Linked DNA regions of Homo sapiens: all the other regions are linked to region 1. Evidence: fine-mapped expression QTL. A gene starts in region 1. Each other region holds a variant in brackets. All regions are shown on one strand. Distances are between the middles of the regions.

The links.
Region 2: its variant is fine-mapped to the expression of PKP4 in whole blood (INTERVAL, PIP above 0.99).
Region 3: its variant is fine-mapped to the expression of PKP4 in whole blood (TOPMed, PIP 0.98).

The regions. Positions count from the first base shown.
Region 1 is chr2:158,455,903-158,458,663 of GRCh38, reverse strand. It overlaps PKP4 (plakophilin 4), which reads right to left and starts at 1,712. Exons shown (of 22, transcript NM_003628.6): 1 at 1,446-1,712. CCDC148 (coiled-coil domain containing 148) reads left to right here and starts at 1,911. Exons shown (of 14, transcript NM_138803.4): 1 at 1,911-2,249. The coding sequence starts at 2,225. It overlaps LOC124907900, which reads left to right and starts at 530. Exons shown (of 1, transcript XM_047446754.1): 1 at 530-1,533. The coding sequence starts at 1,210. The coding sequence ends at 1,533. RefSeq lists an enhancer at 353-432 and silencers at 713-932, 963-1,022, 1,043-1,092, 1,343-1,392, 1,613-1,982 and 1 more.
Region 2 is chr2:158,113,347-158,116,107 of GRCh38, reverse strand. It overlaps UPP2 (uridine phosphorylase 2), which reads right to left. Exons shown (of 7, transcript NM_173355.4): 3 at 849-1,007. Among named protein-coding and RNA genes, the nearest start is that of UPP2, 13 kb to the right of the region's middle. RefSeq lists an enhancer at 1,540-2,739. The variant G/A (reference allele first, on the strand shown) is at 1,383.
Region 3 is chr2:158,109,203-158,111,963 of GRCh38, reverse strand. All of the region lies in intron 2 of UPP2 (uridine phosphorylase 2), which reads right to left. Among named protein-coding and RNA genes, the nearest start is that of UPP2, 8.7 kb to the right of the region's middle. The variant T/C (reference allele first, on the strand shown) is at 1,502.

The DNA.
Region 1 (2,761 bases):
ATCTCTCTCGCAGTACATGCCCGTGAGCACTAACAGGCATTTTTTGATAGAGCTAAAATATGTTGGCTGCAAGCTCATTACTCTAACAACCTTCAGGCCCCCTGTTTCTGCTGGTTTTCAGAAAACCCTAGTGAAAACCAGGCACTATCCAAACCTTGCACACCAAACTTGCCAACAGCCCTGTGCAATGATCAATAACCTTGGCTACACAGTCATCGGCCCCAAATTCACGGTCCTGAAGACCAATGCAGCAAAAACCCAGACGAAAGGCTAGCTGGAGCCCCAAAGAATTACCGCGCTTCCCCTCTGCCGCATGGAGGGAAGCTATGGGAGGAGAGGAGTGGAATGAGGCTCACCAGCTCCGAAGATGCTCCGGTGACCTCTGGCTGCGCGGCGAGAGCTGGGGAGGGAAGGCGCTAGGGCAGCCGCGGCGGGCTGTGTGGACTCTGCCCCTGGTGCATTCCTCGCATTCCTGCACAATCTGTCGCCAGCCCAGGAGCCGGCAGCGCGCGTCCCCCGCTGTACACACACACCTGACTACCGCTGCGCCCCGAGCGGCCACGGCCGCCGCGGCACCTCCACTGCCCGCGCTCGCGGTGTGTCGCACTCAGCCAACACGCAGCCAAATCCCGGCCCCGCCGCTCGCTCTCCGGGTAGCGGTCCAGGGGAGAGGGCCGGCAGCCTCGGCAGCGGGCGGGGATACCAGATCCGCCAGGGAGGTGCCGCAGCTCCGCTTCAACTCCTGGCAGGGAGAGGAGGAAGCGGCGGCGCAGGAGGGCAGCGGCGAGGCTCGGCGCTGGGGAGCCGGGAGGGGTGGAGCGTGAGGATCCGCGGCCGGTAGAGAGGGGCGCACTAGGCAGAGGGGTGGGCAGGACCGGCAAGGAGTACAGGACTTCGGGGACAAACGCAAGACCGCGCGGGCAGCAGGGGCGTGGGAAGACGGGGAGGGGACCAAGGTGCAGGATCTGGGGCTAGAAGGACAGACAGCCGGCCCCGAGTGCTGAGGAGGGCGGGCGCCCAGTGGTGTCGAGGGCGACTTGGGGCGCGCGGCGGCAGGCAGCGGGGAAGCCGCCGCGAGGGCGTCCAGCAGGGCTCAGCGCGGCGCTCAAGTTCGGGGCTGGGAGCTCTGAATCCGAACAGCCCAGCGTGGGCAGAGGTCGTGCGCTGCGCGTACGGGAGACCGGGGAGAGGAATCGCCGGGAAAAGCAAATGGAGGGTGAAACTTGTGCGCCTGCCGGGGGGAGGGGAGCAGCAGGCGAGTGCGGGCAGGAACACGAGGCGGGGCAGGAAAGCCGCGGCGGCCGCGAGGCGCTGGGGACGCGGCAGCGGGAGGGAGGCCCCCGGCCCCCGGCGCGCAGGTCCTGGCCCTGGCGCGTGTTCGGGGCGAGGGCCGAGGGTCTCGTGGGCAGGAGTCTCCGCGCCCTCCCGCGAGCCCACACACTTACTTTCCAGCTTAGGCAGCGGCCGTCGTCGCTCCAGGGATCAGGGACATCGGCGCCGAGGGGTCGCCGCTGCGGCACCCGAAAAAATTAAAAAAGTGCCGCGGCGGCGCGGCTGCCCGCCCCTCCCTCCCCCACCGGCCCCCGCCCCCGGAGCGGCTCTCCCACCACCCCCGGCGGCGGCGGTGGCCAACTTGCCCCTCTACCCCTTGCCCATGGTGCCGCCTCCGCGGCCGGCGTCGACGCGGACTCAGCCCCGGAGCCCCCTCTACTGCCCAGAGGCCGCCGCCGCCGCCCGCCCCGCTGCCAGCCCTCCCGCCCGGCCAGCCCCGGGCTCCCGGGAACGTCAGCACGCCGCCGTCCCCGGGCCAGCTCCCGCCACCCCATTGGCGGGAAGGAGAGGGCTGGCCCTCCCCATTGGCCCGGCCCTCATATTGAACAGGCCAATGGGAGCTGCGGTTTCAGGTCGCCATAGAGACCGATGCTGTTCAGCGCGAGAGGGCCTGGAGAGGGTGGGTGTGAGAGAGAAGGTGTCTCAGGTCTCGGGCGCGGGAGGGGGTGGCGGAGAGGACAGGGAGATTCCCCAGCGCTGGCTCTGAAATCTGGGGCAGGCTTTCCTTGCCTTACTGCCAATCCCAACTGTGCCTGGTAGGGTTTGTCCCTGGCGTCAAAGGTAGGAACAGCTGAGCCCTTAGATGTACCCCTGACGGCGAGAGCCCAGGAGTGGGCGTTTCACTTTTCCTGCGTTTGGGGAGTCCCTGAGGCTATGCCCTTTGACCTTTGACATGTGTGCAGCTTCTGCTTCTCCAGGTGAGTTTGCACCCCATCCCTTCCATCGCTGCTTCCTCCTGACGTCACTGAGCCACCTAAATCCTACTTATGTTTGTTCTCTGCAGCCACTCCCCCTTCCCTGGGGTGGATCTTTCCTCAACGTTTTGGGTCCTCAAACTCATAACTCTTCTGAAAGACTCAAAGAGGATTTCCTTTGAGGATATTTTGGTAAGGGAACGAGGTGGCGGATTGTATGATAGATGCCAAAGCGTCAACACATGAGCTAGCCTGTTCCCTGATTCTCAAAGCAAACCTCTAATCTCCCTGTGGGCAGATATTTATTAAACACATCTGTGTGTACATCCCGCACTATGAGCTTGACAGGTGCATGTTCTTTCACTTGAGAGGTTACAGGCTTGTTAAAGATAGAGGAAACAGAAACAATCCTTCACACCTTGTGATGATTTCACAAAAGAGTAAGGGAAATGGATTACAGTTGATGGATTTTGTTTTCTATTTTCCAGTATCTCTTTAAATTTGATATGGAAATA
Region 2 (2,761 bases), 340 kb after region 1:
TTTCATCAATGATTGTCCACACTGTAGGGCAATCAATGGATGATGCCTATTCCCTATGGTAGGAGCCACTTACAGCTTAGTTCCTTAGAATTGCCACCCTGTGCAGGAGACTCTTCCCCTGTCCCCTGGCATGCCTGCCTGTGCCTCTTTTGAGGGTTGCAGTGCCCAGAAATGTGATGGCTTCAGAGTTATTGCTTCAGAATACAGCCCTGTGCAGAGAGACAAACATGGGAAGGCAAATGGGATGCCTATGCACATACGCCCTCATCAGTGTGTGCCCAGCTGAGTCCAAGGGGGAAATGGTCTGCATCTTCCCTAAAACTGCAAATCATTCCCCTTTCATTTTGTCTTAGGGCACTGTGTGCTTCCATAACTGTTCACATGTTCTAAATGCAGGAGAGTAATTTACAAGAGCTCAGTAGAAATGCATTAGCAGCTTTTCAGCGAGCTTATTATGGTGTTAAACAGCAGCACTTTAGCAGTCCTGAAAATTAGCCTCTGTGTACTAAAAGCTCAACATTCCCAAAGCTGGGTAAGGGATAGAAGAAGGAAAATTGCCGTGGCGGGGGTGAGGGGTGTTAACCAGTTACAAAGTAAAGAGAAAGGAGGGGTGCTTTGAGTATTTTCCCCCTAATTTGAATACCTAAGTGGTAACTAATAAACAAAAATGATGCTGCATGCTGTGTTCTGCCCTGGGGGCTTTTTCCAATAATGAACTCATACCTGGACACCTTGTTTGATTGTGTAAGAATGCGAAGCTGGAGGGAAAAAGAACTCCTACATGTAAAAGTTCCCACTTTTTTCTCTAGCCTGCAATGACTAGCTGAAATGCAACCATGGATACTTACACTGATGGCGAGCACAGGCCCGGTTTTGTACATACAGTATCTGTCTGTCCCAGCACAGATGTCTTTTATGTCTTCTTCAGCTTCCTCAAACCCGAGCTCCTTGTGCATAAACAGTGCAAATGCTTTCATTCTGTTGGGGCTCCCACCGACACAGACAAACTGTTAATAAAAATAAACAAGGGCCTGCCATAGTAACTGGGATAAGAACCACGGGTCAGTTTCAACTCTAATGTTTTTATTTTACTTTTTAGTTAATTTACTTAAGAACACGTGTAGATGTCATGGTTTATGTTCCATGAATTAGCTAATTTGCATCATCAACCTGTAAATAAAGCAACAGATGCAAAGTTTTTTGCACTAAATTTGTAAAGAAAATCACAAAATCAAAATAAATGTTGATATTATTCAAGGAGGTGTTTCCTGGTGTTTTTGTTTATAGTGAACACCAACCAGCATCTTAAATTGACATAGACAGCCTATTGTTGAGCATTACCATGACATATGCTTAGGATGTAAGTTCTGAGGCCACGGCAC[G/A]TGAGTGATGTAAGAGCAAAAGGAGAACCACCAGTTTTAGGTATGTTTTCTGATTCCCCATCCCCCATCATAAATTTGTATTGTGAAATGGAGTATGTGAACTTAAAATTTTAAAGGAATCATGTCAAGACTTTTAAATTTCTTATTCAGAAGAAATTCTCATGGAACAAGCCTTATTATTGTAAATGTGGGATCTCCCTGTGGCATTTCATCAATTCCAGTGATTTATTTTTGTTTTTGTTTTATTCACATTTTACCTTCTCTGAAATTAGGATAGGTGTTGCAGTCAACGGTGTCTAATAGAAGATGGTAATACAATTGTCTGGCAGTTACTCATACAACAGTCTGTTTAGGGGTACCCTAGCCCCAGGTACCAGGAGTGGGAGAGGTGGACGCCAGGGAGAGGAGCAGAGAAGCACTACGGGTCAGCAACAAGAGGGTGAGCAGTAGCAGACTCTCACACCCAGGAGGAAGCACAGGCCACAGCAAGGTGGCAAGAGTCAAGTCCTCCCGGATTCTGAAGTAAGTGGTGAGGAAAATGCAGAGAGAGAGAAGACAACATAGTGGAGGGTCTGCCCTTTGAGGTTAGGTAAACCTGGCTTTGAACTCCAACCCCATCAGTGAGTAAGAAACTTGCTCAGTGTCACACAAATAATCGATGTGCCTCAGAACATCTCCAAAATAGGAAAAACACAGTACCTCTCAGAGAGTTTTGAAAGAAGAACGTGAGATTGCATATGGCAAAGGACATTGCACAAGTCCAGACACGTTCTCAGTGATGTGCAAATGGTAACCATTATTTTTTATATCATGTAGCAATTTTCTATTCCTGCTTCTGAGCTTGTTACTTTTCCTGTATTGCAGAATTTAGTACACAGGAAGCTGGTTTGAGTCCTCTAGTGAGGAAAAGGCAGTTGGTGGTATCTGGCTGATGTAGGCAGCATTGGACAGAGGACTGGGAGGGCTGACAAGGTCCATCACAGGGATAAAGAATATCTGTCTAACGAAATACCTAACTGAGGTTATAGAATAGGCGGCCCCATTCACAAATGATTTACTCTAACTATTGGGTGGTCTGAGTACATGATGCATCTTGTTTCCATTTAGCAATAATTCCTGAGCTATTCTCTTTCTCAATTAGGGGTGTAATTAACCCTGTATCCACGCCCTCTGCTTCTCTTCTACCCTTAATATTGTCTTTTCTCTGCCTTCTTATGAGTTTCTCTGATGAAGCCTTAAGCTAGTAATGAACTGCAATAGAAGTCTGCCATAAAGACTGGTAGCAAAGAGGTTAAGACCATGGTTTCAGGTGAGTTTTAAACTAGTTATTGATAATTCTTAGAATTTTCTTCTTTGTTGGTATGGATAGTTAAGACTTG
Region 3 (2,761 bases), 350 kb after region 1:
TAGAGCTTTCAAAATTTCTTTCAATAATGCTTGTTGTTTTCAGAGTATAAGTTTGCACTTCTTTTGTTTATTTGATTCCTGTATATTCCTGTAAGGTCTATATGTCCCACTTCAAGTCGTACAACATTGATTAAAAGTAGATTTTTAAACATTAAATATGTTTACTGTAATCCTTAGAGCAACCACTAAAACAAATAAGCAGAGAAACAAAACTGAAACAAAACAAAGAGATATAGTCAAAATATAACAGATAAATAAAAATGGAATATTTAAAAAATGTTCAACTATCCCAAAAGAAAGCTGGAAAGAGGAATAAAGAAATGGAAAGCAGAGCTTAATACACAGAAATCAAATATAAAATGGTAAACCTAAATCCAAACATATCAATAATTACATTAAATGCAAAGTGTCTAAGCACCCATTTAAGACACAGAGATTTTCAGAATGAATAAACAAACATATGATCCAATTATATGCTGTCTATAATGATAATGATACAGGCAGATTAAAAGTAAAAGAATGGAAAAATATAGACCATGCAAGCTTTAATCTAATGCTGGAATGACTATATTAATATCAAAATAGGCTTCAGAGCAAAGAAAATTACCAGAGACAGAGGGATATTCCATAACCATAAGAGTCAGTTTACCAAGAAGACATAACATTCAAAGTGTATAAAAACTAAAAACAGAGCTTAAAAAATAAAGCAAAAACTGTCAGAAATAAAGTATTAATAAACTCACAAGCATAGTTTGAGACTTCACCTCTCTCAGTAATGCATAGAACTTATGGAAAGGGAATCGGCAAGACTTAAATGTTAGACCTAAAACCATAAAAACCCTAGAAGAAAACCTAGGCAATACCATTTAGGACATAGGCATGGGCAAGGACTTCATGTCTAAAACACTAAAAGCAATGGCAACAAAAGCCAAAATTGACAAATGCGATCTAATTAAACTAAAGAGCTTCTGCACAGCAAAAGAAACTACCATCAGAGTGAACAGGCAACCTCAGAATGGGAGAAAATTTTTGCAATCTACTTATCTGACAAAGGGCTAATATCCAGAATCTGCAAAGAACTCCAGCAAATTTACAAGAAAAAAACAACCCCATCAAGTGGGCGAAGGATATGAACAGACACTTCTCAAAAGAAGACATTTATGCAGCCAAAAAACACATGAAAAAATGCTCATCATCACTGGCCATCAGAGAAATGCAAATCAAAACCACAATGAGATACCATCTCACACCAGTTAGAATGGCAATCATTAAAAAGTCAGGAAACAACAGATGCTGGAGAGGATGTGGAGAAATAGGAACACTTTTACACTGTTGGTGGGACTGTAAACTAGTTCAACCATTGTGGAAGACAGTGTGGCGAGTCCTCAAGGATCTAGAACTAGTCCTCAAGGATCTAGAACTAGAAATATCATTTGACCCAGCCATCCCATTACTGGCTATATACTCAAAGGATTATAAATCATGCTGTTATAAAGACACA[T/C]GTACATGTATGTTCACTGCGGCACTACTCACAATAGCAAAGACCTGGAACCAACCCAAATGTTCATCAATGACAGACTGGATTAAGCAAATACACCATGGAATACTATGCAGCCATAAAAAGGATGAGTTCATGTCCTTTGTAAGGGACAGGGATGAAGCTGGAAACCATCATTCTCAGCAAACTATCACAAGGACAAAAAACTAAACACCGCATGTTCTCACTCATAGGTGGAAATTGAACAATGAGAACACTTGGACACAGGAAGGGGAACATCACACACTCGGGCCTGTCATGGGGTGGGGGCAGTGGGGAGGGATTGCATTAGGAGATATACATAATGTAAATGACGAGTTAATGGGTGCAGCACACCAACATGGCACATGTATACATATGTAACAAACCTGCAGGTTGTGCACATGTACCCTAGAACTTAAAGTATAATAAAAAATATTTCTTCTTTTCCAACATTAGCCTTTAATTCTATAAATTTCCTCTCAGCACTCTACCCACATTCTGTAGATATAATATGTTGTATTTTCATTTTTCCTCAGTTCAAACTATTTCCTGCCTTCCCCGGAAATGTATATCCTGCTTTGTTTGAGTGGAGAATTTTATAAATGTCCATTAAATTTGAATAGATAACTTCTAAGGATCTTCCACCGTATGTATTAATTGTCTGAATCTTTCTAGTGAGTATGGCAGAGATTGATTAGCTGTTCACCTAAACAGTTTGCTCTTCTTTCTGGGCACCCAGCTAAACTTAACATCTCAGCCTCCTTTCCAGTTAGACAAGGTCATTTGTCTGGGTTCCAGTGACTAGAATTTGAGCAGAAGTAATGGGTACCATTTCCAGTCCTAGCCCATAGAAATCTCCCATCCTACAAGGAGGATGTATTGGTGACCCTACATATTGTCGCTGTCATCTGCTGGACAGGTGTTGACACACTGGGAAACAGCAATTTATGCCTTGAAGGAAACAGTAACAATTATGGAAGGAGCCTGGGTCCTCGAATCACCAGATGTAGGGAAACCATCCATCAACTAAGAACTCCCACCTTGTACCTAATGTGAGTGAGAAGTAAACTTAAATTGTATTAAGCTACTGAGATTTTGCAGTAGCAAGTAGCAAAAATTTTTAAATATGGTAAGAATATGAAGGAAATAGGAGTGATTGCTGGAGTCTGAAGTTTCAGCTTTATACACCCAGAGTTCTCCTTTCTTGGAAGATAATGGTATTAATAATGATTATCATCTCTG